Linked DNA regions of Homo sapiens: region 1 is linked to region 2. Evidence: fine-mapped expression QTL. A gene starts in region 2. The other region holds a variant in brackets. All regions are shown on one strand. Distances are from middle to middle.

Evidence for each region. PIP is the estimated chance that this variant, and not a neighbour inherited with it, causes the effect.
Region 1: its variant is the best candidate, but not a certain one, in a credible set for the expression of ENGASE in iPS cells (HipSci, PIP 0.52).

What each region holds. Positions count from the first base shown.
Region 1 is chr17:79,051,505-79,056,881 of GRCh38, reverse strand. No RefSeq gene overlaps it. Among named protein-coding and RNA genes, the nearest start is that of ENGASE, 21 kb to the left of the region's middle. The variant C/TC (reference allele first, on the strand shown) is at 2,703.
Region 2 is chr17:79,072,717-79,078,093 of GRCh38, reverse strand. ENGASE (endo-beta-N-acetylglucosaminidase) reads right to left here and starts at 3,270. Exons shown (of 14, transcript NM_001042573.3): 1 at 3,004-3,270; 2 at 597-664; 3 at 230-431. The coding sequence starts at 3,149. RefSeq lists a silencer at 2,869-3,408.

The sequences.
Region 1 (5,377 bases), 21 kb after region 2:
ACTATGCCTGGGCCAATAAAGTATTTTTTAAATTAAGGTATGTACATTTTTGATAAGAATTAATGCTGTTGCACACTTAATAGACTATAGTATAGCGTAAACATAACTTATACATGCACTGGGAAGCAGTGCTGACTCACAGCCCAGCATTCCCTACAGATGCTGCCACAATAAAAACCTAATGGTTATAGCCAGAACCCCCTCACCCCGATGTTTCCTCCTAGGAATTTTCCACCCACTGACCCCCACCCTGCTCCCCGGCTATAAATCCCCACTTGCCCAAGCTGTATTCTGGGTTACACCCAATCCCTTTCCTCCACCACAAGACCCCATTGCAATGGTCCCTGTACCTGTCTCAACAGTCCTGATAAGGTCTGCCTTACCATGCCTTAACAAGAGTCACTAAATAAGGTCTTCTTTAACAGTTCGGCCAGGCGTGGTGGCTCATACCTGTAATCCCAGCACTTCGGGAGGTCGAGGTGGGTGGATCACCTGAGGTCAGGAGTTCAAGACCAGCCTGACAAACATGGTGAAACCCTGTCTCACTAAAAATACAAAAATTAGCCAGGCATGGTGGCGCACACCTGTAATCCCAGCTACTCGGGAGGCTGAGGCAGGAGAATCACTTGAGCCCAGGAGGTGGAGGTCGCAGTGAGCTGAGATCGTACCACTGCACTCTAGCCTGGGTGACAGAGCGAGACTCTGTCTCCAAAAACAAACAAACAACAACAACAACAAGACAATTAACAGAGTTGTGCAGCTATCACCACAATCTAGTTTTAGAACAGTTTGTCTCAGCCGGCCATGGTGGCTCACGCCTGTAATCCCAGCACTTTGGGAGGCCGGGGCTGGTGGATCACAAGGTCAGGAGTTTGAGACCAGGCTGACCAACATAGTGAAACCCTGTCTCTACTAAAAATACAAAAAAATTAGCCAGGCGTGGTGGCATGCACCTGTAATCCCAGCTACTTGGGAGGCTGAGGCAGGAGAATCACTTGAACCTGGGAGGCAGAGGTTGCAGTGAGCCAAGATCATGCCACTGCCCTCCAGCCTGGGCAACAGTGCAAGACTCCATCTCAAAAAAACAAACAAACAAACAGTTTGTCTCCCCAAAAAGAAACCAACTAGCAGTCGTATTCTAATCCCCCCACCACACACAAGCAGCCTTGGAAACTTCTCGTCTGCTTTCTGTCTCCATGGATGTGCCTCCCCTGGAGATTTCATATAAATGGAATCCCACAATATGTGGTCTTCATGTCTGGTTTCTCGCACACAGTGTAATGTTTTGAGGTTCATTCCATGCTGTAGCATGCATCACTAATTCATTCCTTTTATAGCCAAATAATAGCCCATCATATGGACACACCACATTTTATTTATTCCGTTACCCACTGATGGACATTTGGGTTGCTTCCATTTTTTGGCTATTATGAATACTACTAGGAACATTGGAGTACAAGCTTTTGTGTGGGAGCTTGTCCTTATTTCTCTTGGGTATACACTTAGTGGAAGTACTGAGTCATGTGGAAACTCTATGTTTAACATTCTGAGAATTTTCCGACTGGTTTCCAAGATTATTATTTTCTTACTGGCGACATCCGTTGAGAATCGCCACCAAATTCACCATTATTCTAGGCCTGGATTCCTCCCTGCATCTCTCACCTTTCCTCTGCATTCATTTTCTCTCAGTGCAGGTTTTCCAGTGACAGAGTCTCCCAATTTTTGTTTGTTTGAAAATATCTTTTTAAAAATATTTTAATTGGAAATAGAACTGAGATGGACAGTTATTTCTAGCCCTTTAAACATTCCATTCCGCTATCTTGTGGCTTCTGCTCTTTTGCTTGTATTTGTTCATTCTCTTGTTGCTATAAAGAACTGCCTGAGACTGGGCAATTTACAAAGAAAAGAGGTTTAATTGGCTCACAGTTCTTCAGGCTGTAGAGGAAGCATGATGGCTTCTGGAGAGGCCTCAGGAAACTTTCAATCATGGCAGAAGGCAAAGGGGAAGCAGGCTGGTCTTGCATGGCCAGAGCAGGAGGAAGAGAGAGACGGGGAAGACATTTTGACACAACCAGATCTCATGTGAACTCTATCACAAGAACAGGGGGACTCAAGGGGGAACCACCCCCATGACCCAATCACCTCCCACCAGGCCCCATCTCCAACATTGGGAATTACAATTTGACATGCTTGGGTGAGGACACAAATCCAAACCACAGCAGAGGTCAGTTGTGATACTTATTATTGCTCCTGTGAAAGAAAATATTTTCCCCTCTGCTTTTAAGACTTTCTCTTGGTCTTTGGTTTTTAGTAGTTGTACCATGATATGCCATGCTGGCTGTGACCTTGGTTTTATTTGTCTTGCTTGGGATTCACTGAGTTTCTTGAATCTGTACCTTAGAGACTGATCAATTGGGTGATTTTTCTCAGCTATTTTATCTTCCAATATTTCTGTTGCCTTTTCTCTCTCATGTTGCCTCCTGGGACTCCAGTTGCACGTGTATTGGGCCTTCTTATTGTCACTTCTGTACTTTTGTTCTGTGTTTTCATCCTTTTGTCTTTCCATACTTCTTTCTAAATATTTTCTTCTGATTTCTCTTCTAATTCACTGATTTTTCTTTTCAGCTGTGTACAGTATGATGGTATATTTATCCACCAAATTCTTAGTTTATTTTTTTTTTTCTTTTTCTTTTTTTTTTTTT[C/TC]TGAGACAGGGTCCCACTCTGTACCCCAGGCTGGAATGCAGTGGTGCAAGCATGGCTCACTGCAGCTTCCACCTCCCAGTTTCAAGTGGTCCTCCTGCCTCAGCCACCCAAGTAGCTGGGACTACAGGCATGTGCCACGATGCCCGGCTAGCTTTTGTATTTTTTTGTAAAGATGGGATTTTGCCATGTTGCCCAGGCTCTTAAATTCATTTGTTTTGTTTTTCACTTCTAGAGCTTCCATTTGCTTCTTTATTATCACCACCATCATCACCATCATTAAAGTTTTCTGCCACAAATATCAATCCTTTTTTTTTACCTCCCTGAATGTAGCAAGCATAGTTATTTTATATTCTGATTGTGATAACTCTAAATGGTAAGAGTTTTTTCCCTCATGTGGTAGGCATTTAATACATTCTTGTGGAATATCTCAGTAAGCAGGATCTCAAGTTGCTTGGAGAACTAACTTAGTGGCTATGTCAATTGAGCGGTTGGAACATTTCCTGTCTTTAGGCAAGGAGGTTTCCAAATTTTCCAGAGCATATGGACTTCTAATCCTATCTATAAAAGTGTCTGAAGTAGAAATTCCTTGTCCTTGCCTGGCCATCTGCATAATGAGAAATGGGCTTACTCCATTCTGCCCTAGGAAGGGCAGGATATGGGAGCACTTGAGGTCACCATAGTTTCCCATCCCTGCCCCAGCTGTGGAAGGACTTTAGAGAGGAAGACATGGTCCTCAATTAGTCATTCCTTGTGGAATGCTTCCCCTGGCACCTGCATCAGCCTCCTGCTGACTCTGTGATCTCACCCACCAGTTGATTCAAAAATGCTTGTTCAACAATGTCCTTGGAAAAACTAACCCTGACACTCCCATCCCATCTCACTGGCCCTTGGCCCCTGTGCCATCGTAAGCCAAGCCCAGAACAATGGGACCAACTCTGAAGGTCATGACTCTGGAGCTCCAGGACTTTCCAGCCTTGAATAGAGAAGGCTGCGGCAGCCTAATTTTTTGGTTTTGTGTTACTTGTTTTGATAACTGCTGTTTATTGAGATATTATTTACATACCATAGAATCATCCATTTAAAGTGTAGAATTCAGTAATTTTTAGTTTAGATTTGCTTATTCTGGTCATTTCATATAAATGGAATCATGCAACGTATGGCCTTTTCTGTCTGGCTTCTTTCCCTTTTGATAATGTTTCTGAGGTTTACCAATGTTGTAGTAGGTAATAGCACTTCATTCCTTTTTTTTTTTTTTTTTTTTTTTTTGAGATGGAGTGAGTCTTGCTCTGTCACCCAGGCTCTGGAATGCAGTGGCACGATCTCCGCTCACTGCAACCTCTGCCTCCCAGGTTCAAGCAATTCTCCTGCCTCAGACTCCCAAGTAGCTGGGATTACAGGCACACACCACTACGCCTGGCTAATTTTTGTATTTTTTTAGTAGAAACAGGGCTTCACCATGTTGGCCAGGCTGGTCTCGAACTCCTGACCTTGTGATCTGCCTGCTTTGTATAGACACACTGCATTTGTTTACCTGTTCATCAGCTGAGTGGGCACTTGGGTTGTACCTGCTTCTTTGTTATTACTAATAATGCTGCTATGAACATCTATCTATAAGCTTTTCATAGACATATATTTTCATGTCTTTTGGGTATATACCTAGAAGTGTTATGGCTGGGTCAGCTGTAGCTCTATGCTTAACATTTTGAGGAACTGCCAGGCTGTCTTCTAAAGGGGACTCACCATTTTGTATTCCTGACAGCAGTTCCAGCAGCTCCATATCCTCAGCAACACATGTTATCATCTGTCTTCTTGACAACAGCCTTCCCATTGGTTGTAGAGTTGTCTCACTGTGGTTTTGATTTGCGTTTCCCTGATGATACACCTGTTCATGTGTGTATTGGTGGTTGTAGAGTTGTGTCTCACTGTGGTTTTGACTTGCATTTCTCTGATGATTACACCTGTTCATGTGTGTATTGGTTACTTGTATATCTCCTCTGGAGAAGTGTGGGCTGCTTTGCCCATTTTTAATTAGATTATTTGTCTTTTTATTATTGAGTTGCAAGAGTTCTTTATATATTCTAGATATAAGTCCCTTATCAGATATATGATGGCAAATATTTTCTCCCATTCTGTGAGTTGTCTTTTCACTTACTTGATGGTGTCCTTTGAAACACAGAAATTTACAAGTTTGATGATGTGCAGTTGATCTATTTTTTTCTTTTGTTGCTTGTACCTTTGATATCATACCTAAGAAATCATCACCTAATCCAAGGTCATGAAGATGTATGCCTGGGCTTTCTTCTAAGAATTTTGTAGTTTTGGCTCTAATATTTAGGCCTTTGATCCAAGGCCTAATTTTCGTATATGGTGTGAGGTAGGGGCCCAACTCCATTCTTTTGCATGTTGGGACATCGATATCTTGCATTATTTATTATTTTCTGTTACATTCTATTTTTTTTTAATAATCTGGGCAACAATGTCTCATCTTATGCTAGTCATTATGGCCCAATAAAATCAGCTTGCCATCACGCCACTGCGTTCCCATAGTGGACCTTACAGAAAATTATCATTGAGGACTAGTGTGGGCCATGACCTCCTCATCCCCATCCCTGGCTACAAAAGCTCCTGAAAGTCCTAACATAGGCAGTTATTTCGTTGGGCTGAGTCATCAGCCA
Region 2 (5,377 bases):
TGCTGGGATTATAGGTGTGAGCCACCAAGCCCAGCCCAGTCTTCCCTTTTTACAGATGAAACACTGGGGCCTGCCTTCTTCTCGCAGTTAGTGCCATCCCTCCAATGCCCGTCTCCTGACTCCCCGCCCAGTGCTCTTTCTACACATGGCACTCTCTCCCGCCCCTCCAGCCCCCACCCCAGCAAAGGAGAACAATGTAAGCAACATCAATGTAAGGCCAGGTCCTCACCTGTCATCCAGGTACCCGCCCATCATGTCATGACACAACAAAGTCCGGGGCCTCTGGCTGCTCAGAGGGGGCTGGCGACACGCCAGGGGCTCCAGGGCCACATTAAAGCCATCCTCCAAGCGGGGCTTCCACGCCAAGAGCTCCTCCAGCGAAGACAAGTAAAAGCTGATTGGTTTGGTGGTGTCCTTGTCATAATATCTAACTGGTCCGAGGACAGAAACATTGAGCAATTAATGGAAACTATTATAGGATTAATCGAAACATTTTAACAATAACAGAGAAGGAACATGAGAGGGGGCAGGGGCTGACCTGCCCCAAAGCCCCAGGTGTGAAGGTGGATCGGTATTCAGAGCCTCTGTCTCCTCACCTGGCAGGGGGTCCGGGGAAAAACTGACCACCTCTCGAAAGACTGTCTCTTCTTCTTCATCTTTGATGCTAAGCAAAGAGGGAGTTGTACATTTATAAATAAAAACATAAATAGGTAAGAACACTTAGAAGCAAATGGACCAGTTTCATCTAAACACAGAGAGATATTCTCTGCCTTATGTTGTTTAATATTAACTATAGAAACATTGTATAAAGCAAGGAAGTGCCCTGTGATAATCCTAAGGTTTTACCTATATTAGCAACCAGGGCTTGGCTTCCACATGGACACACGTACCAATGATTACTCCTAAGAATAAACCTTACCCTAGGCCAGACGCAGTGGTTCACGCCTGTAATCCCAACACTTTGGGAAGCCAAGGCAGGCGAATCACCTGAGGTCAGGAGTTAAAGACCAGCCTGGCCAACATGGCAAAACCCCATCTCTACTAATACAAAAATTAGCTGGGCATGGTGGCACACGCCTGTAATCCCAGCACCTTGGGAGGCTGAGGCAGGGAGAATCACTTGAACCTGGGAGGCGAAGGTTGCAGTGAGCCGGGACTGTGCCACTACACTCCAACTTGGGCAACAGAACGAGACTCCATCTCAAAAAAATAAATAAATAGAATAAACCTTACCCTCTAAAGCAGCCACCCCAATACCACAAAGACCAGACATAAATACTTCACAGGGTCCCCAGGATTTTCTATGGCCAAGGGGCAATATCCAAATACCCAAAGCACCAGAAAGTTTCAGGTCCTAAGAGAGCAGAGACCAGGCTTCCTCTATAGGCCACACTTCCCTAAGTGCCTTCCGCGCTGTTCATGGATGTATGTTACAGGGAGAAAGAGTTCCTTCGTTCCTTCGGTACATTAACATGGAAAGCTCCTAAATACATCTCAAACCACTTTCTTTTAAAAATTGATTGATTAATTGAGACAGAGTCTCGCTCTGTCGCCCAGGCTGGAGTAAGGTGGTGAAATCTCAGCTCACTGCAACCTCCAGTTCCTGGGTTCAAGTGAGTCTCCTGCCTCAGCCTCCCAAGTAGCTGGGATTACAGGCATCTGCCACCACGCCTGACTAATTTTGTACTTTTAGTAGAGACTGAGTTTCACCATGTTGGCCAGGCTGGTCTCAAACTCCCGAACTCAGGTGATCACACGCCTCAGCCTCCCAAGTGCTGAGATTACAGGCATAAGCCACCATGCCTGGCCTAAAAAATCATTATTATTTTAGGAGCAGTAAGAAGACACCGCAGTGGCTATTTAGAGGCCATGGCACCAACGTTGAGATTCCCTAAATCTACCAACGCCCAAGGCCACTTCTTTGTTCACTGAGTTGTCATCTGCCATCACTCCACTGCCATTCAGAGGCCTGTTGCAAAGAGTCCTCTGTAGCATCTGCCATCACCAAACACTGACCCAGGGCCTCCAGAATGACATTGGGAGACCCTGAGAACTGCAGGGGTCGGGGACGGATTCAAGCAGAGATGCCGCAGTTGTTCCTCTCCACCTTCCTTTTCCAAAGCCCCCTTCCTCGTTGATGTCCTTATTATACTTCAGCCACCCCCTCCCAGACCTTCTCAGAACAATCCCACACCAGGTCACCTTTGTCACCTGTCATTCCTCCACTAGGAGGGAAAGAGCCATCTCCACATTCCTCCTGTCCAAAAATATCTTTCCCAGCAGCCAGCCTTCATCCCATCTTCATGAGGTCTGAAATGCTCAGCAGTCTCACTGCTTTGGGTTTAGAAACAAAGCTACGGCTGCTGTTTCCGGAAGCCATGTCTGTGCTCCTAACTTCTCCCCCTGCAACCTACTGAGGGGGAGTTTACCGGGTGGGCAAGTGCCCCCCAAAGGAAGGAAGCCCAGCCCAGAGGGGCATGTTCGTCCCTTTCTGTCTCTGTGCTTTGGCCCTTTCTGTTCCCCGCCAGTTGGATACCCTACTCCCTATTCTCCACCTACTGAAGGCTTCCTCCTCCCCAAAGACTCAGTTCTAGTGTCACCCCTACAGAAGGCCACCCCTTCCACCAGCCGGCATCCACTGAGCCAGGCATGAGCACCGCCGCCGGGATCTTCCGCATAGACCAGCGACGTGGGAAGCAGGGGTCTGGCCGGGGCGTCGGGATTCCCGCTGGGCCCCGCGGCCACTCGGGTTTGCACCCGTATTTCTGAGATAGGCAGGGGTCACGCACGGGGGCCGGAGGCCGCTGCCCGGCAGTGGCGCGAGGACGGCGGGGCGGACCGGGGCGGAGGGGCGCTGCCACCCTCTGTCCCTTACTGTGCACGGAGCGGACACAGGCGCCGGCCCCCCGCCCCTCGGCGCGCCCGTGCCGGGAAACCTCGGGCCCCGGGGCCACGGACTCTCAGCCCCGCGGATCGGGGTTCACGCGGGCCCCGCAGCCCCACCTCCTTCCCGGCCGCCGCCGCCGCGGCCGCGGCTCCTGATCCTCCTGCTCCTCCTGCGTCCCCGCCTCCGGGGCCGCCAGCCCCTGCAGCTGCCGCCGCCGCCGCCGTGTAGCCGACCGGGTGACCGTCACCGCCGCGGCCTCCATGACACTGTCCGCGCACGCCGAGAGGCAATCGCAGGCCCGGGCCCGCCCCCGCGCCGCGCTCGGCCAATGGGAAGTGCGCAGCGCTGACGCCGCGCTGGGACGGGACTCCGAGCTGACTCCCGGCCAGCGGCCGCGCGGCGGGGACTTTGTTGAGGCGACAGGCCGGGGGCGGGGCCGAGGACGGGGCGGGGCTGTGAGGGGCGGGGCCTGGGCGAGTTCCGAGCCCAGGGTTCGTCGTCGTTCTTGTTGTTGCCCATCATTGGCTATGAGTCCAGGGTGCTAGAAGGCTCTAGAAGGCTTCGGAACGCCCCAATCTTAGAGTTCTCTCTTTAGCCTCACCAGCTTCCTTTGTCAAGCAAACCGAGGTTTATCCCAGAGAGATTAAGCAATCTCCCAGAGGGCACAAAGTCAGCAAATGGTGGCAATGAGATTTTAACTCATGCAGCTAACCCCTATTAAAAGATAATTTTCAGACCGGGCGCGGTGACTCACGTCTGCGATTCCAGCACTTTGGGAGGCCGAGGCGGGCGGATCACCTGAAGTCAGGAGTTCGAGACTACCCTGGCCAACATGGTGAAACCCCGTCTCTACTTAAAATACAAAAATTAGCCGGGCGTGGTGGTGCATGCCTGTAATCCCAGCTACCTGAGAGGCTGAGACTGGAGAATCGCTGGAACCCGGGAGGCAGAGGCTGCAATGAGCCGAGACGGTGCCATTGCACTCCAGCCTGGGCGACAGAGGGAGACTCCGTCTCAAAAAAAAAAAAAAAAAGATGAAAGGTTAGTAGGTTAGTATCGGGCCATGTGGAAGCTGGTGTCCTATGTAGGATGCATAGTTTTCCAGTGAAACACGGATTTCTTTCTACAGCCCCACGCCTGTGCCCAACAGTAGTAGTTGCTCTACCCCTAAGCGTGCAGGGCCTGGAGTGGCACCTCTGCAAGAGTGGCACTGCCCAGCGTCTTAGGCACAAAAGGAGTTCACAGGAAACATGATAGAACAGAGCCCTGAGAAGCCAGAACTCAAGGCTGGGCCCCACAGGGCAAACCAAGGCTCTCCTCCCTCCAGGCCCCAACGCCCCTCCACAGCTAGGAGCTTCCAGTGCTGGGCTGCAGCTGCCGCCCAAGCCAAGTTGACTGGGCCTTTATTATTGTTGCAGACTTTGAACTTTATGAGGCTCCAAGCTTCCATAAACGCCAATGGTGGGAACTATGACTAAGGTTGTTGAATATGGGCCATGGTGCAGGCCAGCCAGTTAGGCAGGAAGGACGGGCCACTCAGAAGCAGGACACGCTGACCCATGGGGAGGACAGAGAAGGCAGAGGGCTCCTCTTTGGGGCTTCAGTCCTGGGAAGCTTACAGTGAGCGAGGGCAGTGGATCCCCAAGTTCCCTCCTGCTGTGTTCAGGGGTGCACCGGACGTGGACAGTCTTGATCTGGGGTGCATGTAACCAGGTGTTCCCAAGCCCTCACCTGCAGCTTAGCAATAAAAATAGATAAACTTTCATCCTACCCAGGTTAGAACACAGTTCTAAGGGATACTTTGAACAGCCTTTGGGTAATGCTCAGTCTCTGGGAGAAAATATGCCCAAACCTCCCTTTTCTTCTCTCCTTTCCAAAGAGTAGGCACCTGGTCTAGAAGAGCAAGAAAGTGAAGGCAGCCTTGCACGCCCCTGAGGACAGAAAGGACTTAGGCCTTGTGGCCTCTTGTTAGCCCCTGTGGCTCGTGGTCTCTCTGGATGTCAGGCCAAGCCTGGAGGGGCCCTGTCTGCCTTGAGCTCACATTGGCTCATACTGGGGCTCTGGATCCGTTTGAGGCCTGAGTGGGCCCTCTAAAACCCTAACCTTCTGGTGTTTTCAGATAACATACAGAGCAATCAGTTAAATTTGAATTCCAAATAAATGATGCCTGGGACATAGGACAAGCTTATATTAAAAAGTTATTGCATATTTATCTAAAATTCAAACTGAACTAGGATGCTGTCTATGCATTTGCTAAATCTGGCATCCCTACCTGTGAATCTGAACTACAGCCTCGGCAGAGCCACCCTGCCCTGTTACAGGGGCCCCTCTGACACCTCCCTGCAGGCTCTTGGCTGTCCTGGGCTCTGCCCACACCAGTACTGGTTGGTTTGGGACAGCTGAGCCTCGGGTCTCCCTGCCTGACCATGCTGTCCCATCAGCTTCCTGTTGCAGGTCGTGACGCAGTGCATGCACTTGCCTCTGCACCCC